Linked DNA regions of Homo sapiens. The protein of the gene in region 4 interacts with the protein of the main gene of each other region in a pairwise test. Each region holds a gene or a part of one and is shown on either strand. Other genes may lie near its edges. The genes, in order: RITA1, PAXIP1, UPF1, DCP1A, XRN1, NBDY and RAD52.

What was found.
Region 1: the proteins of DCP1A (region 4) and RITA1 interact in binary tests that used the Homo sapiens proteins (3 or more experiments, as listed by UniProt).
Region 2: the proteins of DCP1A (region 4) and PAXIP1 interact in a two-hybrid assay, tested with the Homo sapiens proteins (one large-scale study listed by BioGRID).
Region 3: the proteins of DCP1A (region 4) and UPF1 interact in binary tests that used the Homo sapiens proteins (3 or more experiments, as listed by UniProt).
Region 5: the proteins of DCP1A (region 4) and XRN1 interact in a two-hybrid assay, tested with the Homo sapiens proteins (one large-scale study listed by BioGRID).
Region 6: the proteins of DCP1A (region 4) and NBDY interact in binary tests that used the Homo sapiens proteins (3 or more experiments, as listed by UniProt).
Region 7: the proteins of DCP1A (region 4) and RAD52 interact in binary tests that used the Homo sapiens proteins (3 or more experiments, as listed by UniProt).

What each region holds. Positions count from the first base shown.
Region 1 is NC_000012.12:113,188,721-113,192,868, forward strand, and holds the end of RITA1 (RBPJ-interacting and tubulin-associated protein 1), read left to right. Parts: intron 1-2,589; coding exon 2,590-3,097; 3' UTR 3,098-3,648; downstream 3,649-4,148. UniProt on the Homo sapiens protein: Tubulin-binding protein that acts as a negative regulator of Notch signaling pathway.
Region 2 is NC_000007.14:154,947,625-154,951,124, forward strand, and holds part of PAXIP1 (PAX-interacting protein 1), read right to left. Parts: intron 1,867-3,500; exon of another isoform or gene 1,674-1,866; intron 467-1,673; exon of another isoform or gene 380-466; coding exon 279-379; exon of another isoform or gene 274-278; intron 150-273; exon of another isoform or gene 69-149; intron 1-68.
Region 3 is NC_000019.10:18,855,959-18,859,458, forward strand, and holds part of UPF1 (regulator of nonsense transcripts 1), read left to right. Parts: coding exon 1-131; intron 132-227; coding exon 228-342; intron 343-918; coding exon 919-1,062; intron 1,063-1,361; coding exon 1,362-1,575; intron 1,576-3,500. UniProt on the Homo sapiens protein: RNA-dependent helicase required for nonsense-mediated decay (NMD) of aberrant mRNAs containing premature stop codons and modulates the expression level of normal mRNAs.
Region 4 is NC_000003.12:53,337,544-53,341,043, reverse strand, and holds part of DCP1A (mRNA-decapping enzyme 1A), read left to right. Parts: intron 1-2,898; coding exon of another isoform or gene 2,899-2,953; intron 2,954-3,500. UniProt on the Homo sapiens protein: Necessary for the degradation of mRNAs, both in normal mRNA turnover and in nonsense-mediated mRNA decay. Removes the 7-methyl guanine cap structure from mRNA molecules, yielding a 5'-phosphorylated mRNA fragment and 7m-GDP.
Region 5 is NC_000003.12:142,306,110-142,309,073, reverse strand, and holds the end of XRN1 (5'-3' exoribonuclease 1), read left to right. Parts: 3' UTR 1-2,464; downstream 2,465-2,964. UniProt on the Homo sapiens protein: Major 5'-3' exoribonuclease involved in mRNA decay. Required for the 5'-3'-processing of the G4 tetraplex-containing DNA and RNA substrates. The kinetic of hydrolysis is faster for G4 RNA tetraplex than for G4 DNA tetraplex and monomeric RNA tetraplex.
Region 6 is NC_000023.11:56,815,561-56,819,679, reverse strand, and holds the end of NBDY (negative regulator of P-body association), read right to left. Parts: intron 2,361-4,119; 3' UTR 501-2,360; downstream 1-500. UniProt on the Homo sapiens protein: Promotes dispersal of P-body components and is likely to play a role in the mRNA decapping process.
Region 7 is NC_000012.12:936,195-939,694, reverse strand, and holds part of RAD52 (DNA repair protein RAD52 homolog), read left to right. Parts: intron 1-2,243; exon of another isoform or gene 2,244-2,609; intron 2,610-2,812; exon of another isoform or gene 2,813-2,888; intron 2,889-3,500. UniProt on the Homo sapiens protein: Involved in double-stranded break repair. Plays a central role in genetic recombination and DNA repair by promoting the annealing of complementary single-stranded DNA and by stimulation of the RAD51 recombinase.

The DNA.
Region 1 (4,148 bases), on a different chromosome or scaffold from region 4:
CATAAGGACACCAGTTCTATTGGATTAGGATCCCCTACCCTTATAATGTTATTTAGCCTTAGTTACCTTTTTTTTTTTTTTTTTTTTTTTTTTTTTTTTTTTTTTTTTGAGATGGAGTCTGGCTCTGTCGCCCAGGCTGGAGTGCAGTGGCACCATCTCGGATCACTGCAGCCTCCACCTCCGGGTTCAAGGAATTCTCCTGCCTCAGCCTCCCGAGTAGCTGGCATTACAGGTGCACGCCACCATGCCTGGCTAATTTTTGTATTTTTAGTAGAGACGGGGTTTCACTGTGTTGGCCAGGCTGGTCTCAAACTCCTGAGCTCAAGTCGTTCTCCCGCCTCTGCTTTCCAAAGTGCTGGAATTACAGATGTGAGCCACCATGTCTGGCCAGCCTTAATTACCTTTAATTAATCTAAATAATTAAGGCCAAGTGTAGAGACATTTGGGGTTAGGGCTTCAACATATGAATTTGGGTGGGCACAATTCAGTCCATAAGAACTGGCCAGCTAAAGTTAGGGTTCATTCTGAACCACAGGGACATATTTCAGATGAGAGAAATGAAATGAGAATGGGAATGATACCTATTATAAAAACAAGAATCAGTTATTGCCAGTTCTGTAGACAAGGCAGGGTCAGGTGGAGATTAGCAACACTGATACCTACAACATGGCTGAAAACACTGAGGTAAAGATAGGCTGCATTAGGAAGTATGGTGTCCATGAAAAGGGAGGTGACAACTCCTTGCTCACCTGGAGGGTGGAATTTTCTTCTGGATGCCAACAGGTAGAGGGTGTCAAGTGAGGGGTTGCATAAGAGGTAGAGAAGTTATTGAGCAAAAACCTTGGCACCAGACATATACAGGCATTAGCCAATGTGGTTTGAGCAGCTAAACCAAGTGGCAAAAGCTTGCCCTTTCAAAGACTTGCAGTTTGGGGATAGAAGCACTTTCAGTCCTGGCCAAAAAAACTATGGGCGTGGAATCTTGCAGGTATGCCGTGAATATCTGTTGAATAAAAAAAAAAAAAAAAAAAAAGGCCAGACAGGCTGACTCAGGCCTGTAGTCCCAGCACTTTGGGAGGCTGAGGTGGGAGGATCGCTTGAGCTCCAGAGTTTGAGACCAGCCTGGGCAACATAGTGAGATCCCTGTCTCTACAAAAAATAAAAATATTAGCAGGGCATAGTGGTGCATACCTGTAGTCCCAGCTACTCTGGAGGCTGAAGTGGGAGGATTACTTGAGCTCAGGAGTTCGCAGCTGCAGCGAGCGTCACTGCACTCCAGCCTGGGTGACAGAGTGAGACCCTGTCTCTTAAAAAAAAAAAAAAAAAAGGCCGGGCGCAGTGACTCTTGCCTGTAATCCCAGCACTTTGGGAGGCCGAGGTGGGTAGATCATGAGGTCAGGAATTGAAGACCAGCCTGGCCAACATGGTGAAACCCCCCCCGTCTCTACTAAAAATACAAAAATTAGCTGGGCATGGTAGCACATGCCTGTAATCCCGCCTACTCAGGAGGCTGAGGCAGGAGAATCGCTTGAACCCAGGAGGCGGAGGTTGCAGTGAGCTGAGATTGCACCACTGCACTCCAGCCTGGGTGACAGAGCGAGACTCTGTCTCAGAAAAAAAAAGAAAAAGAAAGAAAGAAAAGAAAATGGGCACGGTGGCTTACTCCTGCAATCCTAACACTTTGAGAGGTTAAGGCAGGGGGCTGCTTGAGTTCAGGAACTCAAGACCAGCCTGAGCAACATAAATCTGATCTCTACTAAAAATCAAAAACAAAAAAATTAGCTGGGCTTGGTGGCACTGTGCCTGTAGTCCCAGCTATTAGGGAGGCTGAGGTGAGAGGATTGCTTGGGCCCAGGAATTTGAGGCTGCTGTGATCTGTGACTGTGCCACTACACTCCACTTGAACAACAGAGTGAGATCGTGTCTCACAAAGAAAAGAAAAAGTGGAGGCTATAAAGACTAAGGTTATACTAATTGTGACTCTCAATTGCAAGTGACAGAAAACTTATTCAAACTGGCTTCCCCAGGAGAAGGCATGTGGGGCTCCTGTAACAGGGGCTCAAACTGTGGCTGGAACTGTCTGTCTCCACCTTAGTGCTGCTTTTCCCTGCATGCCCTTCAATCTTCAGTAGGAAGGAGATAGCCACAAGCTGCTTTGGGCTGACATCCTATCAGCTTAGCAAGAAGTAAAGTCAGGTGGCAGAAAGACATCTCTTTCCTAGTGGTTTCTGCAAGGTCCTAAGGCAGATTCTGATTGGACAGGCTTGGGTCATCTGGCCATTCGTGAACCAATCCATGTGGCCAGGAGGATGGAATATGCAAATTGTCCAGGCCTGGGGCACATGTCTGGGAATGGGGTCAGGATGCAGGGGCAGTGGATGTTTCGCAGGGAAAATCAGCAGAGACCGGGGGCAGTGGTGCTTAAGAGGCTGTGGCCTCGCTGTAGGTTTCAGACTGGGAGACAAGGACTCCTGGGATCTGCAGGCAACCCTCCTCTGCTGCTGCCATCCCAGGGTGGGTGGGAGAGCTGTTAAAGTTTTGAGGGGTTGTTCATCCCCCAGCTCATGGCGTTTATCTTCCATTTGCCAGACCCATCAGCCACACCCCGTCTTACTGTGATGAGTCGCTGTTTGGCTCCCGATCTGAAGGCGCCAGCTTCGGGGCCCCGCGGATGGCGAAGGGGGATGCCGCAAAGCTCCGTGCTCTCTTGTGGACGCCACCACCTACCCCCAGGGGTAGCCACTCGCCCCGCCCCAGGGAGGCACCACTGCGAGCCATTCACCCAGCTGGTCCCTCCAAGACAGAGCCGGGGCCAGCGGCAGACTCCCAGAAGTTATCTATGGGTGGGTTACACTCTTCACGCCCCCTGAAGCGGGGACTTTCCCATTCCCTCACCCACCTGAATGTCCCCAGCACTGGTCATCCAGCCACCAGTGCCCCCCACACAAATGGGCCTCAGGATCTCAGGCCTTCCACGTCAGGGGTGACCTTCCGGAGCCCCCTGGTGACTTCCAGGGCTCGCTCAGTTAGCATTTCAGTGCCATCTACCCCACGACGAGGTGGGGCCACCCAGAAACCAAAGCCCCCTTGGAAATGATACTCTTTCATCAGGGTTGCCTATGGGGCCACGGCGACAGGTATGGCCCCTTGCCAGGGTAGGAGGACATTCATCACCCAGGGAACCCCAGGTATTAAAGAAGCCCCTGTGGGGGCAGACAGACATAGCAGGGGTGGGCAGTGCCTCCCTTTATCCTGACAATCTCTAGTCGATTCTTGCCTTTTTCTCCCGATTGCGGATTTGGGGGCCACCTCTAAGATGCCTCTCTCCAGCCCTGTCTCAACCATACTCCAAATTAGTGCCAACCCAGGGGCCTGGCACCTCCCACATCATCCATTGTCTTGCTGCCAAGTGCGAATAAACGGCGTGATTGCCAACCTGGAGGGTCCCCTCTTATCCCTTCAAGCCAAGCTTCCTGCTCAGGATTAGTTTCCAGCTAAGTCTGCAAGCCCTAGAGGAGTTTTTCCAGGCTGTCTGTGAAGCCTGGGGAACACAACGGCAACTGGGAGATTTGTGAGTGAACACTGTTTCATCTTAATATGCTTCTGAATTTATTTTCATGTACTAAATAGATCAGCTCATCAAAGCCATGAATGTCACTTTTTTTCCCCCTCAGGGTAAAGGCCATTGTTAGGCCTGAGTTGATTTAAATAACAAAGTTAAATACAACAGATAGTACAAGGATGTGGCAGGCAACATGACAGCGGTGAGTGGGTAACTGAAGTTTGGGAATCTGGGGCTTCGGGAAGCGCTGGACTCTTCCTCCCGTCGGCTTCTGGCTAATGCCACTAACTTGTGGTTGGCCGGCTCTTCCTTAGCTCAGAGTACAGACAATAGTATTTTTTTAGTTTTGTTTTTAAGTTTGTTTGTGTGTGTGTGTGTGTGTGTGTGTGTGTGTTAAGGTGGGAAATAAAACACAATGGCTAGGACTTTGCCAAGTGGAGGGTCCAAGAAAGCCAGACAGTGACATGTGTGTCTGCAGAGCACTTAGGATGCAGCCCAGGACTTAGGAAAAGCAACAAAGCCTTTGCGCAGATGGAATTGCACCCAGATTGGGCAGTGTGGGCTGGGCTCTGGGCCTCTCCTTGCC
Region 2 (3,500 bases), on a different chromosome or scaffold from region 4:
TTCTTTGAATAACTTATTTCTCATAGATGTATTTATTAAATTTGTGTACTTATTTTTAAACATTATAGTAAAGAAAAGTTCTCTAGAGATGTGCTGTGGTTCACAGGAGGAAGACCTCCAGTGGCAATGTCCAAGAAGGAAGCCAAGAGGTAAATGGGATGCAGGGTGAGCCCAGCTCCCCTGGAGGCGCACTTCCCACCAAATCACCTGGTAGTTCCCTTGAGCAGGTCCGTGTGTTATGCTTACTTGGACTGATTTACTTTTCCCTTAAAGTGTACCTTAAAGAGTGGAGAAACGTGTGCCCGTTTTAAGGATTCTTCCAAGCTGAAAGAGAAAAGTACTTCTGCCTCAGCATCTCGGAGAATGTAGTTCTGCTCATCTGGAAAACAGAACAGCACATACTCTGAAAAGTGTGGACACGTGAAGTGTGGCAAGTGTGACCCACAAAATTCTCGCCCATATTCAGGTACATAATATTACAGCTACATTTACCTGTACAGCCTTCGGATATTTAAATGTCACCATTATATTTCATTTACTTCCCTCTAAAAACAGCCAGACCAAAAAGACAGACAGGTATTTTTTCTCCTAGATCAGTGGTAATTAACCATTTGGGGTCATAAACTCTTGAAAAAAACGGGCTGGGTGTGGTGGTTCATGCCTGTAATTCCAGCACTTTGGGAAGCCGGGGAAGGAAAGCTGCTTGATGCCAGGAGTTCGAGAACAGCCTGGGCAACACAGTGAGACTTCATCTCTACAGAAAAATTTTAAAATCAGCTTGGCATGGTGGCATGTGCCTGTAGTCCCAGCTACTCGGGGGACTGAAGTGGGAGGATCGCTTGAGTCTGGGAAGTTCGAGGCTGTGGTGAGCCATCATTGCACCACAGCACCCCAGCCTGGGCAACAAAGTGAGATCTGGTCTCAAAATAATAGTAATTTTTTTTTTTTTAACAACAAAAATGTAAAAAAAGAAAAAAAAAATTACTGAAAAATATGAACCCTCTTCCCATAGCTGCTCCTCCCCTCTTTACCCCCCGACTATTTTAGGAAGTTCACCAACTTTCCAAGCCCGCAGATCTCAGGTTAAAATCTCCAGTCCTAGAAAGACAAGCTTCAAATAATCCCATCCAAGTGTATATTATATATATATATGTTATATATATACACTAACTCCTCAAGGACTTGTAGGACATTGGAGTCATTTGGCTCATAATCAATTATGTGAATTACCAAACTTTAAAGATTTACCAAACACACATTCAAGTATATAAAAGTATACAGCAATTTATAAAGGATAGTTTTATCAATTTTTAAAGACTTCTGACAATTATTAATAATTGACAGATTTTCAGTTTTCATAGCAACATTTTAAGAAATGTGTCAAAAGGTAAAGATCACAAAATGTTTCAATCTTCCTATAAATATGCCTCATATTCAGAAAACCATTTCTCCTCCGCCGCCATTTCCTACCAACCATACAGCATAATAAGGCAGCTCAAACCCAATAATATATACATCAAAAGCAGAAAACAAGGAAAAGTGATTTGGGATTGGCAAACTGGGGTTGACAAGATGATACATATTTTAGGATTTGTGGGCTATGTATTATTTCTCCTGCATATTCCTCTTCTCTTTTTTAAGCAATATTTAAAAAATGTAAAAACCATTTTCAGCGTATGGACCAGTTTGCTGACTGCTGGGCAGGAGCAACCACATCATGACAGAAATGCAGGGATCTGTTCACCAACGGCCAGAAATACAAAATCAATCCCTGAGTCAACCAGCAGATAGAAAGGCTGCTTTTTAGGTGAAAGGAGAAAAAGAATGTCTAAAATTTGGAAAAACAAAAAATGATGAATTAAAAAAGGAACAAAAAAAGTACTGTTACACATGAGATGGTATATTTGAAGTGTTACTTTCAAAGCTGATATGCCTTCTGAAGAACTTGTGTGAGATCACCAAGAATAGTTAATGTTTATGATAGAGAAAACACCACCGGGCGCGGTGGCTCACGCCTATAATCCCAGCACTTTGGGAGGCCGAGGTGGGCGGATCTCTTGAGGTCAGGAGTTCAAGACCAGCCTGGCCAACATGGTGAAACCCTGTCTCTACTAAAAAATACAAAAAAATTTAGCCAGGCGTCGTCGTGGTGGGCGCCTGCAGTCCCAGCTACTAGGGAGGCTGAGGCAGGAGAATGGCTTGAACCCAGGAGGCAGAGGTTGTAGTAAGCCAATGGCACCACTCTACTCCAGCCTGAGCAACAGACTGGGTGAGACTCTGTCTTAAAAAGAAAAGAAAGTAATATTGAAAAATACAGTAATACAGCTAAGACGATCCTGTCACAGATGAGACATTGAGATTTTGGTTTTTTCAAACAGGGTTATGTTACCTTAGTAGTAGCAATGTAAAGACTCAACCTGAACATTAAACTTTTCATGGAAGTACAAAAGAAATGAGTATCCTAGAAATTGATTATAATATTGATGTCTCAAATTTTATGTAAGTTACACATAAATATAAAATCCCAAAAACATGCACCTACCAAAACAGGTGGAGAAAAGAGTGTTTTCAACAAATGATGCTGGAACAACTGCACATCCATATGCAATAAAAGGAAGCTGGACACAGACTTTACCCTCTTTTAAAAAAAACTGACCCAAAAATGGAACACAGACCTAAATGTAAAATGCAAAACTATGAAACTCCTAGAAGATAACACAGGAGAGAATCTAAGGGACCTTGAGTTTGGCAATGACTTTTTAGATACAACACCAAAGACACAATCCATGAAAGAAATAAGAAGTAACCTGGACCTCACCTATTAGAATGGCCAAAACCCAGAGCACTAACACCAGCATATGCTGAGGAGGATGTGGAGCAACAGGAGCTCCCATTCACTGCAGGTGGGAATGCAAAATGGCACAGGCACTTCAGAAGACAGCCTGGCGGTTTCTTACAAAGCTAAACATACTCTTACCATATGATCAAGCAATTGCAACCTTGTTGATTTACCAAAAGGAGTTGAAAACTTACGTCCACACTAAAACCTGTACATGGATGTTTTAGCAGCTTTACTGCTAACTGCGAAAATTTAGAATCAGCTAAGATGTCCTTGTGTAGGTGAGGGGCTGAACAGATACATTCTGACAATGGAATATTATTTAGTGCTAAAAAGAAATGCTTTATGAAGCCATGAAAAGACATGGAGGAAGCTGGGACGTATATTGCTAAGCAAAGGAAGCAAATCTGAAAATCCTATATACTGTATGATTCCCAATATGTAACATTCTGGAAAGGGCAAGACTATAGAAAGAATAAAAGATCAGTGGTTGCCAGGGGTCAGCAGGCAGGAAGGAATGAGTGGGTGGAGCACAGAGGATTTTCAGGGCAGTGGAACAACTCCATATGACGCTGTAAAGCAAAATCATGTCCTTACACATTTGTTAAAACCCAATGACTGTTCAAGGCCAAGAGTGAGCCCTAATGTAACTATGGACTTT
Region 3 (3,500 bases), on a different chromosome or scaffold from region 4:
GTGGACCAGCTAACGGAGAAGATCCACCAGACGGGGCTAAAGGTCGTGCGCCTCTGCGCCAAGAGCCGTGAGGCCATCGACTCCCCGGTGTCTTTTCTGGCCCTGCACAACCAGATCAGGAACATGGACAGGTGTGTGTCGAGTCCATCCCTCCCAGTTGGTCCCTGAGCTTCTGCGGGTGACATGTACAGAACTCAGGCACCCTGCTGACCTGCATGTGCTTCCAGCATGCCTGAGCTGCAGAAGCTGCAGCAGCTGAAAGACGAGACTGGGGAGCTGTCGTCTGCCGACGAGAAGCGGTACCGGGCCTTGAAGCGCACCGCAGAGAGAGAGCTGCTGATGGTGAGTGCCCCTCCTGCCTGCAAAAGGGCCTGTGGGCTGGCGGCCTGATGGTTTTTGTTTGGGCCAAAGCACCTATTTGAATTGTTGCTTTGCTTCTGGAAAGAGAACTTAGATGCTCTCTACTTGGCCTCTCTGCGCTCAGTTGTACAGTAAATTAGGGACATCTCGCTGCCTGGAACACGGTCTTCTAGGGAGTCTCCACTCCCTGCCAGCCTCCACTGGGATCCGGCAGTGGATCTAGAACACTCCTGCTCTTTCATAACCAACCAGCCTGAACTGGAATCAGCCTGAGTGCAGGTTCCAGCAGCTCAGCACTGCCCCTTGGAGGCTGTCGTGAGGCGCAGAGCTCTTGGTGTGGAGAGGTTGCCTTCTGTGAAACATGACCGTTTAAGGATCTTAAAAGTTTGTAATCACCACAGCCTGGACCATGTATCTTGTCTGGGAGGGACAGCTTGTTTTTTATAGTGTCAGGGAGGGTGAGAAACAGGAGAGCTTCTGTGTTCTGTCCCACCTGCCCTCCGGGGTCTGGTGGCGTTTACAGTGCAGGTGCCCTGATGCCTCTGCACCCTTCCCCAGAACGCAGATGTCATCTGCTGCACATGTGTGGGCGCCGGTGACCCGAGGCTGGCCAAGATGCAGTTCCGCTCCATTTTAATCGACGAAAGCACCCAGGCCACCGAGCCGGAGTGCATGGTTCCCGTGGTCCTCGGGGCCAAGCAGGTGGGCTGCCTCCCCTGCCCTCCTGTGTGAAAACTCGTGTGTGTGATTCTTGGTGTTTGTCTTTTAAAACACCTTGTATTGACGTAGGATGCCCAGCAGAGTGTGCGCACACTGGGGGCTCCCTGAGGGGTTTATAGAGGGTGGGTTCTGCCAGCTGCACGTCCAGTGTGCGTGGTGAGCAATGCCCCTGTGGCCAGGTGGTGTCCTGTGCATCCTGGGGCCCCTACTTCCTTGCTAGTGTGTGTTGAGGCTGATTCACACCTGAGCTTCTTGACTTGTGGGGGCCCCTGTTCCTACAGCTGATCCTTGTAGGCGACCACTGCCAGCTGGGCCCAGTGGTGATGTGCAAGAAGGCGGCCAAGGCCGGGCTGTCACAGTCGCTCTTCGAGCGCCTGGTGGTGCTGGGCATCCGGCCCATCCGCCTGCAGGTCCAGTACCGGATGCACCCTGCACTCAGCGCCTTCCCATCCAACATCTTCTACGAGGGCTCCCTCCAGAATGGTGTCACTGCAGGTAACGGGGCTCTGCCCAGGGCAGGGGCTTCTACAGAGAAGCGGCATCAAGGGAATGTGGACTGGGGAGAAGGAACTGGCCCATCAGCTTCCCCTGAGCGGCTTCACATAGCCACTGCTTGAGGTCAGGGCACTTTGTGCCCAAGGTCTTGATGGTATGGTCTTGGATCAAGTGGTGTCTCTGGGGCATGTGGGGAGCCTGTGTCCTCTGTAAAACTCAGTCATTGCCTGAGAATTCATCCAAGCCTCATGTGGCAGCATGCACAGCAGCCAGGACAGGCTGTTAGGGGAGCTGAGCCCGGGCCTTAACGTGGGCTGTGCATTCAGTGCTTCATGAAGAACAGCTGTTCTCAGGGCCTGGGCCCCTGGGGCCCGCAAGACCGTGTCCGGCTTCCCTGGATAACACAGAGGCCTCACCTGCCCTTTTTCACTCTGCTGACGCTCACACTGCTGGTGACCCCCTGGTGCTTCTGCAAGAGTCAGCCCAGAGCAGCCAGACTGTGCCCGGATCACAGTAAGAAACGCCCTGGATGAGGAAGTGAACAGTACATCTTACTAAGCCTCGAGTGTTTCACTGTGACCAGATAAAATTTCTCGTGACACCTTTGGGTATGCCGGCGCTTGAAGGAAGTCCTTGTGGACACACCCTGGGTATTCACCCCAAGGTGTTGGGCAGACTTTTTCCAAAAATGATCGAACCTGTCGCTTCATGGAGAACTAGTGGCAACATCTGTTACAGTAGTAAAATTCAAGTGAAAACCAGAATTTTGGAAAACTTAACGTCGCTTGCCATGAGCTTGGTGTCTTCCCAACACCTAGAGACTTTTCTGGTGAGGTCTGTGGGGGTGACAGATGGAATGTTTCCACCATTGCCAGTGAAATGTGTCAGCCTTTGGAAGACCTACTTGACTCGGTGGGAGATCCTTCCTGAATGACCAGCAGAGTGTCACGAAGTCACATGGGGATGGAGTGGCAAAGAGTTGTCACAGGCCTGCAGAAACCCACCTTTGTCCAGCTTGATGTGGCCTCAGGGCTGGAGACTCCCAGCCATGCAGAAAGGCTGTAAAAACAAACCCATCTCCCTTTCCAGCCTCAGGCATCCATGAGGCCTGGCTTCCCCACAGCGTCCCCAGAGCCCAGGAGGGTGGACTGAGCAGAGGTGGACCCCAGGGCCCAGCTGCCTCCGATTCAGCCAGATAGTAAGGAGATTTGCAGAAATGGGAGACAGGACCACTCTTCTTACTTAGCTTATTTTTGGAGAAATAACTAACACGTAATGGGTTATTTTTAAATGAATTAATATATTTTTTAAATTTCCAAGTTTAGAGAATACAGTTATCCAATAAACAAAAGCTGTTTGGACTCCCTAACTTTTGAGAGTGTAAAGGGTCCTGAAAGCTGCCGACACAGCGCCTCATGAACTCCAAACCTGTGAGGTTGGTATTGTCAGGCCTAGTTACAGGAGAAAGTGAGGCTCAGAGCCCACCCCCCGGGTTGGGCCACACCACTCTTTGCCTAGCGGTAGGTCTTGGGAGTTGATGCCACTATTGACATCGCAGGGACACCGCTGTTCCCAGCGCATGGCAAGGCTGAAAACACAAGGCCACAGAGACCTAGCTTGTGCTCTGGGGTGTCTGAGCACTGGCTGGGAAAGGCGTGGCTCGGCGCAGGCTCAGACCCCTCATGGTCCCCAGGGCATCGGCCCAGAGGGCAGACGCTGGTGCACACTGCTCTCTAATTGATGCACAGCACGTAGTTCACACCCAGGAAGTACATTTTAGGAAATTCTCTATTGAAGTGTAAACATGTGGCCACATTACAAGTGTCTGGCTCAATGAGTGGTTACTAAGTGAGCATATTTGGATAGCCAGCACCTGAACCCAGAACCACCTGACCAGCTGTGAGAAGCCGCCTCATCCCTGCAGG
Region 4 (3,500 bases):
TGTCTACTGGTTACCAGCACTGAGCCAAGAGCTGTGGTGCTTTAATGTTAACGATACAGTTACCTATGTGGTGTAAGCAGGCAGTTAAGTCAACTGAGACTCAGAGATGCATAACTATTACCCTGTTGGAGAGTTAGGATTATGACTATTCTTCTGCTTTTTAGTCCAGGGTTCTTTCAGGCATTTTTACAATCTCTAATAACGATTGGATGTAGTCAGCAAAGCTAGAGTGGCCCTTCCAAGAAACTACAGTACTAAAAAATATACTTGATTCCAGTGTATTAGTATGGATATTGAAGGTATGGGTGTTTGAGGACAGTTTGTTGGACATTGACTATAGGGATATGAAAACTGGTTATGGTAACAATGATTGTGCTCTAATTGGCATCTAAGGATATAGTTGGAGAAATGTTGCTTCTAACTTAAAAAGTAAAAGTTAATGTGTTTGAATTTCACTTGGCGGGGGGGTAATTGGTCTTGGGGGATGTCTTCAGTATAAAATAGAAAAAGTTACTAAAAATTATACACCTCTTAATTCCCTGAATGAGAAGTAACAAGGCCTATTTTAAAGCTAGAAACCCCCAAGTTCTTTTCCGTAGCACACTTTGAAGTATAAGTGAAATAGGTTCTATCTTTTGACTTCTCAGTAAACTATTTGTCCAGGTAATTACCTCTCAGATTTTAAATTCTGTGGACATATTAGACATGCTTTGTAATAGCTGTAAGTTCAGATGGATTTATTTAAACTAATGTTAACAATGTAATTATTTCAGATTGCTCTTTTCTTTGTACTGAATATTCCATTAAAGGGAAAATTCGGCTGGGCAAAGTGGCTCAACACCTGCAATCCCACGATTTTGGGAGACCGAGGCAAGCAGATTGCTTGAGCCCAGGAGTTTGAGACCAGCCTGGGCAACATGTCAAAACCCCCACTCCACAAAAAAATAGAAAAATTAGCCAGGTGTGGTGTCACACACTTGTAGTCCCAGCTACCCAGGAGGCTGAGGTGGGAAAGTCGCTTGAACCCAGGAGGCTGTCCAGGCTGCAGTGAGCCATGATTGCGCCACTGCACTCCAGCCTGGGCAACAAGCGAGACCCTGACTCAAAAAATGAAAAGAGGGTGGGAGAAATTCTGCAAATGAATATGGATCCAATTTTTTTTTAAGTGAAATAGGCTTAATTCTGTTCTTTACTGCCTGGAAACTTAATCTAGCCATCACTCCTAAGTGGTTTGATTATTAAAGTAGTCAGTAGGGAAAGTTATCCGGACCCAGTTACCATTTAGCATAAACCTGAGATGAATTGTATTATATTTTTTTCACAAGGCAAAAGTCCTGTGAAATTGAAAGTGTGACATAACACAAATGTAATTGAACCATGAGTAACCAGAAGCTAACTAATTAGAGCTTCAGTTGTCTGGAAATATTTTTATAGTTCGTGTGTGGAAGAAATGAAGGCAAATTATAAGAAAACAAGCTAATACTAGGTTTTATTTTCTGAAAATCAAGCAGATATCCAGAGAATAACCTGGGGTCGGCATTAAAATGTCAATATTTTATAACTTTAACTCCACTGTAGTATCATAGGTTAAATTGTTATAGTGAGACCTAAAATCATCAGGAGTATTTATTATGTTAACTAGAACATTCTTGGGGAGAAAGTGCATTAATGCATTTTACTTTAGAAAATTTTCAACTGATTGAAACAAAAGTTTTCTTAGTTGAACAGAAAACTCACTTAACCAGGTCATTTCATTAGGGAAAGTATTTAAAGGAATAGCTGTATTGGGGAGAAGTGATAAGACAACAGAAAATGATTTTGTGAGTGTTAAGCCCTCTCGAGTGTGTGTTTTGTCTACATAGTCTTAAAAGTGGAAAATAGTCTTGTCAGGTCAGCGAGCTATTAAGTTGTTTAGGGATTTGTTCTTTAAATAAAAAGTTAGTATCTGATTATGCATACAGGTAATTATACCTGATTCTATAGCTGCACTTCTGCCATTCTCTTGTGGGAAATACCATCAAGACACCTGACCCATTTAACTCAAGTGACACCTTCATATCCAACTTCTTTCATTCAAATTAATTTTTGGAGTTAATGTACTAGAACAGTGAACCATAACTTTTTTTCAGTTCTAAGTTATTTGTTTTATTTATTTTTAAGAGTTTTTCTTTTTTTTTTTTTTTGAGACGGAGCCTTGCTCTGTCACCCAGGCTGGAGTGCAGTGGCATGATCTTGGCTCACTGCAAGCTCTGCCTCCCAGGTTCACGCCATTCTCCTGCCTCAGCCTCCCGAGTAGCTGGGACTACAGGCGCCCACCACCACGCCCGGCTAATTTTTTCTATTTTTAGTAGAGACGGGGTTTCACCGTGTTAGCTAGGATGGTCTCGATCTCCTGACCTCGTGATCCACCTGCCTTGGCCTTCCAAAGTGCTGGGATTACAGGAGTGAGCCACCGCGCCCAGCCAAGAGTTTTTCTTTATAAAACATGCCCATCTACACCCACCCCACCCCTCAAGAAAAAGATAAAATCTTAAAGAGAAAATTCTTACACTGACTAAGGGCTTAGGCTTGGTGATTCTCTTAAATCTTTGTGGGGTAGTGGTGGTGGTGGTGGTGGTTGTTTTCAAAAGACAAGGTCTCACTGTGTTGCCCAGGCTGGTCTTGAACTCCTGGGCTCAAGCAATTCTCCCGCCTCAGCCTCCCGAAGTGCTAGCATGGGCCACCATGTCCAGCCTCTTGAATCTTTTGGGAACAGTGTATTTTTATTCTGTGCAAGGGCCTTTTGGCAGTCACAAGACCCCAGTGGGATTGCAATGAATTATGGGGAGGTTATAAATTCTGGAGTTATTGAGTAGCAGTGGTATTTCTAGCACCTTATTTCTGATCCTCAACTTACAGGTTGAGAAAACAAGAGGCTCAGAGCTGTTTAGGAATCTGCTCGAGATTCGCAAAGGTAATAAGTGACAGATGGAGAATTTGGGAGTAGGTCTTTCGGGCTTCAAGGCCAATGTTCTTTCCACTCTACTGTAACAATAAAATTACTTCATCAATCCATATTCTAGAGTAGTGCTATCCACTAAAACTTTGCAATTAGGGAAAATGATAGTTCCGTGTCAGCACTGTCCCATATAGTAGCCTGCAATGTGGCTAGGGCAAATGAAGAACACTTCTTTTTAGTTTATTTAATTTAATATATTAGAATTTACATGGCTGTATGTGCTGGCAGCTGCCATACTGGACAGTGGAAGTCTCAGCATGAGCTCATGTGCTAACATGCTCTTTGTTGTGCCATACCTGAATCAAACAACTACTTGGGAAGCTTTGGCTTAGATTTTTATGCGTCCTATTTAGTCATTCCTTTTTGAAACTTACAAATGATTTCTAGATACAAAAGCTGCAGAATATATCCCTGAGGGTGGCTTTGCCATGGTAACATTCTTTTGGCATGGAATTTAGTTTGCAGATAAGAATTCTATTCTGGGCTTTGCCTTACTGACTAT
Region 5 (2,964 bases), about 89 Mb from region 4:
GGTCAATGGGAGATGTGCCCTCCCTATGGAGGATGTAAGAAGCAGAGGCCATTTCTGCCCCATGTTGAGGAAACAATCTGTTGATAGACCTGGAATTTAGAGTATATCTGAAAAGCAGTTGGACTTCAAGAAATTTAAAATTCTCTCTTTGAGATGGGGTGGACTAAGACCACCCCCAAAGTTTAAAAATATGCTCATTCAACTTGAATCTTCTGAGGACTTTTTGTGAAAATGGTGGACTGTTTAGGGCATAGGACAGATTCCCCAAATTGCTTTATGCTTCCACATAACTAGAGCACTTCAATCTATTTAAGCCTTTGTCTCCTAACTGAAACATTATTTCTAAATATTTCTATTCAATAAGTTTTTTCTTTTTTGAGCAACTTAAGTGAATTTTGAAGATTGCTCCTTCCAGTCTCGTTCCTTTTCACATTTTCCTGCATTACCTAATAATTACCTCAGCGTTAGAATTTGAATGTATTAATTGATTTAAACATCATGTAGACTAAAGTCTTAAACATCTAAGACTCAGTTGTAGTTGCAGAAAAAAATTAAAGTCACCTCTACTGAACCTTGGTTTCAATTTAAGATTTTTCTTGCTTTTCAAAGGGGTAACTAATAAAGATTGAAGGGTTTTTTTCCCGATTGGTGGAGGAATGAAGAACTATTGATGCAAGTTTTTTTATTGTTTCTTTCTATGATCAGGTACCTGCTTTCATTTTAGACTGCTACTTCCAAACTAAGCTAGATTCTTGGTTTTAATGAGAGGAGGCAGAGAGAGGGAGGCAGATGGAAGAAGAAAAACAGTTAAATAAGACATACCCAGTCACTGCATTTTTGGACTATACCGTATCTTTCTAGCACAAGGAAATAGATAAACTGTAAGGTCTTTTTTACTCACTTTTTATTTATGTGTTCTATTTGTGTTAGTCATAACTGTTTATAGTGGTTGTCTAATTTTTACTTTTATTATATGAGATAGAGCTGTGCAGATCTTCACTCAAGTTAGTTCTGTCACGCTTCTTCCCATTATTTAGAGCACAGTTTTTTAAAGCAACTGTACAATTTCTCAGCCTTATGAGCTTGCTGTATTTCTTGGTATCATGTTGCTTCCAAATTTTGTTTTTACTGTAGAAGACAATTAATTTATTGTAGAGAAGTGGCTGTGAAAGTCGTTCTCTGTCTTTAAAAATCAATTGCAGAAGTTCATTTGTCATTTTTCTAGAGATAAATTATAGTACTCAAACTGGCAGTGCTCAGTATATACATTTTGTAAGCTTTGTCAGTGAAACCATCAGTTTTGCAGGAGCTTCCTTTCCTAGTCAAGATAAAGCTTAAAATTCCAGAAATTAATGTCGTTCGGACTGACTTTATTCATATTTCCATCAAACTTCTCCAATACAGTAAGAGATAGTGTTGAACCAGCATCAAGTCTCCAGAAACATGGCAGAGCAGACAGGCCGTTAAGTTTCACAGACATCATAGATCCTTTTCTTAAAGAAGAAAAACATGTATAAAATAGTTTTAGTAGTCCAAAATGTCAACTATCTGTAGCTGCTTTTGTGTGTGTGTCAGTGAACAAATAATAATGCCTTGCTCAATCAATGCATTCAGCCATCTCAAGTGCAATTTGTGAAGGAGACTATGGTTTCCAAAAGATACATTTTTTTACAAAGTTAAACCTGTAAAAAGTCTTTTTTTTTTTCCCTCCAGCCGTACACCAACTGCACTTGGTTGTTTCAGCAGTTGGTATACTATTAAATTGTCCAGGCCAAATAGGTTTCTGTAGCTGTTTTAGTAATTTGAAGCCAAATTCTCATGCTGTTTCTCATTAAAAAGAATGAGAATTTGGTCCATAGTTAGCTTTAAGTTCTCTCTTCCTTTCTTTCCCTTACAGTTAAGGGTTTGGTGGGGGATGGGGAGGTTGTTTTCGTTTTTTGGATTTTTTTGTCTTTTGGCTTTAAGTATCATATTTTCTTTTGCCTGTATCCAACTGCTTCTTTGAGTATTTTCATCTAGTTTAATGTGAGTAATAGATGCTGTGCTGTCATTGAAGTGTTCAACATTTTGTTCATTTAAACAAAAGTGTAATTCATACATATATAGATACATATCTTAATTGATTTCTCAACTATTTTATAAGTAACTGGAATTTTTCATTAGATCTTATACAGAGAAGTATTTTATTAAAAATTCAAAAGGGAAGACTTTTATGTGCTCATTTTGTAATTTTTGATTTTAAATATCTTTACATTGTCTGCCAATTAAAGTGTTTTAAACTTGCATTGGAATGGACTCCGAATGTATTTTTGTGGTGTTACGTTATCCGTAGATTTCTAGCATGAAGTTAGCCTCACGATGCTGTGCAAAGGATTTTAAAATATGAGAGTCACTGAAAGAGTTTAAACATCTGTTCATGTTAAATGCTCTATGGATTTTAATTAAAGACTTGAGAATGATTTTATAAGCTGTTTGTTCTTTTATTACTATGCTGATATCAAAAGTAGAAACATTAGTCTTTTTGTTTGTTTGTTTTTGAGACAGAATCTTGCTCTGTCGCCCAGGCTGGAGATCTCGGCTCCCTGCAGCCTTCACCTCCCAGGTTCAAGCGATTCTCTTGCCTCAGCCTCCTGAGTACCTGGGACTACAGGCACATGCCACCATGCCTGGCCAATTTTTTAATTTTTTTTATTTCCATAGGTTATTGGGGAACAGGTGGTGTTTGGTTACATGAATAAGTTATTTAGTGGTGATTTGTGAGATTTTGGTTCACCCATCACCTGAGCAGTATACACTGCACACAATTTGTAGTCTTTTATCCCTTGGCCCCTTCCCACACTTTCCCTCTGACCCCCAAAATCCATTGTGTCATTCTTATGCGTTTGCATCCTCATAGCTTAGCTCCCACTTATGAGTGAGAACATACAATGTTTGGTTTTTCATTCCTGGGTTACTTCACTTAGA
Region 6 (4,119 bases), on a different chromosome or scaffold from region 4:
TTGTTTTATTATTTAGCGGTAATTACTGTTTATTTTATTTTATTATTTTGTTTTATTTTTTGAGATGGCGTCTTGCCCTGTTGCTTAGGCTGGAGTGTGCATTGGTGCAATTTTGGCTCACTGCAACCTCTGCCTCCCAGGTTCAAGCTATCCTCCCACCTCAGCCTCCTGAGTAGCTAAGATTACAGGCATACACCACCACACCCTGCTAATTTTTTTTGTGTGTGTATTTTTAGTAAAGATGGGGTTTCATCATGTTGGCCAGGCTGGTGTCAAACTCCTGACCTCAAGTGATCCCCCTGCCTCAGCCTCCCAAAGTGCTGGGATTACAGGATGAGCCACCATGCCTGGTCTTATATATTTTAGATACAAGTCATTTATGAGACATATTATTTGCAAAAATAATCTTGCACTGTGGCTGTCTTTCAAATTTCTTGACTGTGTTCACTGAAGCAAATTTTTTTTCAATTTTAATTATGTCCAGTTTATCTTTTTTTTCCTTTATTAACTTGTGCTTTGGTGTAAGAATTAAAAATCTAATACTTAATTCAAGGTCACAAAAATTTATTCTATATTTCCTCCCAAGAGTTTTATAGTGTAACCCTTATATTTGAGTCTTTGGCCTATTTTGAGTTAATTTTTGTATTTTGCATGAGGTAGGGGTGGAAGTTTTTTGTTTTTTTGTTTTTTTTTTGCATGTAGATACCAAGTTGTCCCAGTACCATTTATTGAAAATAGTTATTTCCCCTTTTGTCTTGCCTCCTTCTCAGAAGTTAATTGGCTGCAAATTAACTTTTGTGAGGGCTTATGTCTGGACTTTGGATTCTATTTCATTGATCAATATTTATATCCTATGCCAGTACCACATAGACTTGTTTATTGTAGCTTTGTAATAAGTTTTAAAATTTGGAAATGTGACTCTTCAAACTTTGTATACTTCAAGATTGTTTTGGCTATTCTGGGTCCATTACATTTTCATATGAACTTTAGAATCAGGTTATAAATTTCTTCAAAGTAGGCAACCTTAATTTTGATAAGGGTTGCATTGAATAGTTTGATTATTTTGAAGAGTGTTGTCATCTTTATAATACTGTGCCTTCTGATGCATAAAATGCCTTTCACCAGATGTCCTTTTAAAGAAGTCTGTGTTTACTGTTTGTGATGTTCAGCCTGGCTCAGAAGTTTTAAAACTCTAATGTGTGATTAGTAATATTATACAATCTTTAAAATAACTGTCTATAATTTATTAAGTGTGCATAACATAACTCTAGAATATACATAAATGTCACCATACCTCCATTTGTGATTTTTCAGATTCTTTAATTCTGATGCTAGGGACTAATTTCAGAGGATTGGGTAAAATACTCAGGTTTCACAATCTCTCTAAATATTCATTTTACAATGTAAGCTTTAATTACTTATTTGAACAAATTGTATTATTATTTTATATTTTAATTTATAAGCCAAGTTTATCTGACATTTTCAGATATAATATATGCTTTCAAGTCTGTTTATCTTTTATTATTACAATTCAAAGGTAGAAGCTTTATTTTTTTATATCCCTGGAAATTATTATAGTCTATAAATTTTTTTCTATAACCTTGTAATTCCTGAAACATTTATGAACTATATGAAATATTGAAAGCTGCTATCTAATGTTTTCCCATTTTACTTGTATTTTTTCACCATAATATTTATTACTGTTTTTAATTAGGATATTCTATTTGTTCAATACTAAGCATTTTAGAAGGAAAGTAGAAAATTACAAAAAACAAGCACATCAACCATTTCAGTCAGAAAAAAATAGTTAAGATGTAAAATACTAGGATGAGGATTAGCATAAAAAGATGTAGATTCCATGCAAAAACTGACAGCAAATTAAAGAAAGTGTACTGGAAACAATTCTTTTTTGGATTTAACCTTCCTCTACTTTCCTTATATTTTTCACTAAAATAAATGAATAAATAGACATAAATAAATGAATAAATGTAGGAAGAAGGTCATATTTCAACACTAATTTTAGTAATGCTTTACATAGGAGTTCTTATAAAATATTTACTTAAAATTCACAATTTACTAGATGTAGTCATATAGATCTAACACAGCGCTTAGAGACAAACTTTATTGGGGCCTTAATGGATTTATAGGAATATAAAGTTATACAACAAGAACAGGATGTCACCAAAAGAGTTCACTGGTTGGCTGCTGCAGGACCATCTCACAGGCATTGTTTGCTTTGGTAAGTTCACCATGATCCAGGGCATGGCCTTAAATCTCAGAGGTCTTACAACCCGATCTTGCCCATGTCTTAGAATTCATCGAAATTCAGGAAGTGAAATCGCGCTGATTACATCATAAGACTGAAAGATACAGAAAGAACAAAAGTTTATTGACTTATAATGAGAAATTCCATTATCATACAGGTCAGATATGTCTGTTGAGCAGAAAACACCCCAATTTCCCTATTAAGCAAGTTAAAGAGAATGCAAAATTATTAGATGAGTGCTTAATAAATATTAAATCAAAGGCATACAATGTCAATAACCTGCATCTTTTTGGTATCTAATGTATTTGAATGCAAAATAATTTATCTGTTAGGTGGACCAGATGTTTCTATTATCTTAGGCATATTTCTCCCCCAAAAAGTACAGGGATGTCTACCGCTATTACTCTTGTTTTATTAGGCTTCCAAAACTAATCAATCAGCCTCATTGTTCCCTCATAGCCCCTTGACAAACTCCTATATTCCTTGGAAATTTTATATTTATTTATTTATTTACACAAATAATACATGAATAAATACATGAATACAATCTAACTGTATATAATTCAAACAACATAGACATAATTCTTCTTACTGCTAAACTTTTACCATTCCTCAGTCTTTCTCCTATTTACAGAAGAAAACATAGTTATCAATTCTGTCTAGACCTTTTTATTTCTATTTAAATGTACACATATATAGTATTTATAATAATATAATAATTTAGATTTGGAGTTTATAATATAAATTAGATCATCCTAGCATACACTTCGGCAATTTGTTTTTATTCACTTATAAATGTCTTAATAATTTTTAATATAAAAATAGATCAGTCTCAATATTTCAATGGCTTCAAAATATTGCATCGTGTTACAGTATAATTTTAACTGTTGAAAGATGTTCAAATTCTGTTGAAAGATATTTAATATGCTTGCAACATTTTTACTACAAGCAAGCCAATTTATTGATATGTAGAATTATTTCCATATATTCTACAAATAAAACACAAGTCAAAACTTACAAACATTAAAATTACGATAGAGATAAAATACTTTAGAAACGTACAATTTTATAGACAGTAGATATTTAACCAAATCCTTTCTAAAACTGAGAATTCTGGAGACTTTTTTGATTGTGGCAAATATGATGACCTAATATTAAAGTCAACTATATTTATTATTATTATTGGCCATATATTTTTGTCTCCTATGAATTGCCTGTTCTTTGACTATATTTCTATCAGGCTTTGTTTCTGTATTAACATAAAGAAATGTATTATATATTCTATGAATTAATGGCATCCATTATCTATCTTTTAAATGGAACCACATTGTATATAAATAGTCTTTAAGTTTACTTATGCTGTTTTTCTTCGTATAAAATTTGCATGTTTTATAAAAGAAAATTATATTTAGAAATATAATACGAAGGCATTAAAATGAGGAAAACAACATGAAATGTATAAAAGAGAAGATTAACAATTTCTTCCAGAAAAACAATTCTAAATCTGTGGAGGTTAAAAGATGTTAAAAGTATGGAATAAATGCCTAATAATTTTTTCCATAACCAATCAAAGACACATATACTTACCAACATGTAACTCTTTCTGTTTGTTGTTACAAAAAATGAGTTTGTATTATACACATTACTCCGAACATGTTTTATTTATTTAATAATATCTCATAGTAACCACATAAACTTAAATATTTTAAAAATATCTGCACAAAATTCCAGCAAATGTGTCCACCAAAACATAGTAATTCTCAAAATGAACATAACTGAGACAGTTTCCAATTGTTTTCACAAATATGCAAACATATTCTCAGATGGTATAATAAAAAAGTTAAACAATTTGT
Region 7 (3,500 bases), on a different chromosome or scaffold from region 4:
AAGAAATTGACGTTTTTCTACTTATGGGTAATTAGAAGCTTGTAGTATTTTCAGTCTTCTAAGTATGTTGAAGATATGAGACGTTGGTGATTTTCTTTGTTTCTCCGGTTGGTTGGTCTGTGTAGTTTTTGGACATGTGTTTGGATATTTGGATTTATATAGCTGCCATAATCTTGGCTATGCAGGTAGTCTTTCCTGACACTTCATCCTGAAAGATTTGAAGCCTTTGGACAAATTTTACAGTGGGCTGGGTGCAGTGGCTCACGTCTGTAATCCCAGTGCTTTGGGAGGCTGGGCAGGAAGATTGCTTGAGCCCAGGAGTTTGAGACCAGCCTGGACAACATAGTGAGACCCGTGTCTCTACAAAAAATAAAAAATATGCCGTGTGTGGCGTTATACAACTGTAGTCCCAGCTACTTAGGAGGCTGAGGTGGGAAGATCACGAGCCAAGGAGTTTGAGGGTACGGTGAGCCATGATCGCCTCACTGCACTGGGTGGCACAGCGAGACTGTCTCAAAAAAAAAATTTACAATTAATGTCTGCATATCCTTCACCTAGGTTCATAAATTTGTACTTTTGCTTTATCTACTTGCCTTTTTCTCTCTCTCTACACACACACACACACACACACACACACACACAATTAGTTGAATGAATTGAGAGTAAGTTGCAGAAAACATGACACTTTACTCCAATATTGCATCATACAAAATCATACATCTAGTGATAGGCCATTGTCCTACAGAATCACGATATAATTATCACACTAACCAGCTGTGGTGGTGCACACCTGTAGTCTAAGCTACTCGGGAGGCTGAGGCAGAAGGATCACCTGAGCCCAGGAGGTTGTGGCTGCAGTCTCATATTCATCCCATCATCAGATTTCTCCCATTGTCCTAATAATATTCTTTATAGCTTTTCTTTATCCCTGATCCGAAATTTCATTGAAGATCACACAGTGCATTTAGTTGTCATGCCTCTTAAGTCTTTATTTATTTATTATTTATTTTTTGAGATGGAGTCTTGCTCTGTTACCCAAACTGGAGTGCAGTGGCATGATCTTGGCTCATGCAACCTCCACCCGCTGGGTTCAAGTGATTATCCTGCTTCAGCCTCCCGTGTTGCTGGGACTACAGGTGTGTGCCACCATGCCCAGCTACTTTTTATATTTTTAGTAGAGACGGGAATTGTACCATGTTGGCCAGGCTGGTCTTGAACTCCTGAGCTCAGATGATCCACCCGCCTTGGCCTCCCAAAGTGCTGGGATTACAGGCGTGGGCCACCACACCCAGCCTTAAGCCTCTTTTAACATAAAAGAGTTCACCAGCCATTCTATTTTGTTTTGCTTTTTGAGACACTGATGCTTTGGAGAGTCCAGGCCAGTTGCTTTGTAGATTTCAACTTGTTTGATTGTTTCCTGATGATTAGGTTGGTAGAAATACTACCTCAATGATGGGACCTTCTTAGTGCGTCCATCAGGAAGCACATGATGTGACTGTAATTGGTGACATTAAGTTTGATTCCTTAATAATTAAGGTGGTAACTCCCAGGTTTCTACATTGTAAAGGCATCTTTTGCCGCCCTCCTTTTTATTCCCAAGTAGTTTATTTGGAGATTAGTCCTTTACACAGTAGAGGAGCGGGGAAGGGAGACAGGAAAGGAAAGTTTGACAACAAAGGGTGAGTTTTCAAGCCTGTTGCCACGGGGGAACCTAATTCCACTGGAGAAGCTCATGGCTTGGTGATGTTCCACAGAGGGGTCAGAAATTTAGCGTATTTCAACACCAGCTCCTGTCAGGCACCATTTGAGGGCTGCTGCCAGGGTGGTTCAATTTTCTGGTGCTTACAGCTTGCCATAAACAGGTGCAAAGTAGTCTGGATACCAAAGAAAGCTCTCAGGTAACAAGATGCAGATGTTGGCATTTGGAAGTCAGAATAGGGTGCACTATTGTGGTAAGAGCTGAAGGGATGGCTGGGCGCGGTGGCTCACACCTGTAGTCCCAGCACTTTGGGAGGATGAGGCAGGCGGATCACCTGAGGTCAGAAGTTCGAGAGCAGCCTGGCCAACATGACGAAACCCCGTCTCTACTAAAAATACAAAAATTAGCCAGGCGTGGTGGTGGATGCCTGTAATCCCAGCTATTCAGTAGGCTGAGGCAGGAGAATTGCTTGAATCTGGGAGGTGTAGGTTGCAGTGAGCTGAGATCACACCACTCTGCACTCCAGCCTGGGTGACAGAGCGAGACTCTGTCTCAGAAAAAAAAAAAAGCTGAAGGGATGCTGAGTAGAGCATCCGTAGTGTCTGCTATACCTGGGTACCCTAGAACCTGGAGAACCTACAGCTTGAGGCAAGAGCGTATGTGCTATTATTTTTTCAAGAAGTGTGCTCTCAGGAAGCAGAGGTAGGGGAAAGGTGAGTGAAGGGAGAAGGAAGATTAAGTCAGTTCAAGGGTGCATTTTGAAGTTGGTTGCCCTTGGTGCAAGTACAGTTGGTTGCTTGTTCTCCTAAAGCTGTCTCCCAGGAGGATGTATACATAACTGCATTCCAGGGCAATCCATCTAAAGGAAGGGTGGACGGACCCCTCAGCTTCTGTATCTCACTGGAAAAAGGTTTGCTTCATGGCACATTAATTCCCATAGACTTCTAGGTTGTGCATGTGTGGGTACCAGGTGGGTCCCACAGACCCTTACACCTCCAAGGCAAGCAGCAAGCCACGGGTGGGAAGTGATAGGTACCCAGTATGAGCAGGAGGTAAGGGACCGTGGGGTTGTGCCTGTGGGCAGTTGGTTATAACCCAGACGTGTTTGATCAGCCCAGTGACAGCTGGAGTGGACAAAGTGACCAAGGGCCTCAAGGACACACAAGGCCAAGAAGATTTGAAGTGCTGTGTAAGATATGCCTAATGCATTTGGATTCTACCTTTGTTTAACGAATATGCACACATAAAAAACACTTGAACTCCTTGAGCCCAGGAGTTCAAGACCAACCTGGGCAACATAGTGAGACACTCATCTCTAAAAAAATTTTAAAAAAAATTAACCTGGCATGATAGCACTCACCTGTAGTCCTGTCTACTCTGGAGGCCGCAGTGGGAGGATCACCTGAGCCCTGGAGGTCAAGGTTACAGTATGCTATGATTGCACCACTGCATTCCAGCCTGGGTAACAGAGCAAGACGCTGTCTCTTAAATTTTTTTTTTTTTTTTTTTTACTTTTATAATGGAAAAACCATTGTAGACAGTTTTAGGAAGGAAAGCAGAATAGTAAGACATCTTTTTCAAAGTAAAAGAGCAAAAAAGGCAAAAAATATTTCACATTTACTTTATGGACAAAGATAAGATTGTCCTTCAATAAAAGACTGAATTTTTTTTGTTTGTTTTGTTTTGTTTTTTGAGAAAGAGTCTTGCTCCATTGCCCAGGCTGGAATGCAGTGGTGTGGTCTCGGCTCACTGCAACCTCCGCCTCCCGGGTACAAGCAATTCTCCAGCCTCAGCCCCCCGA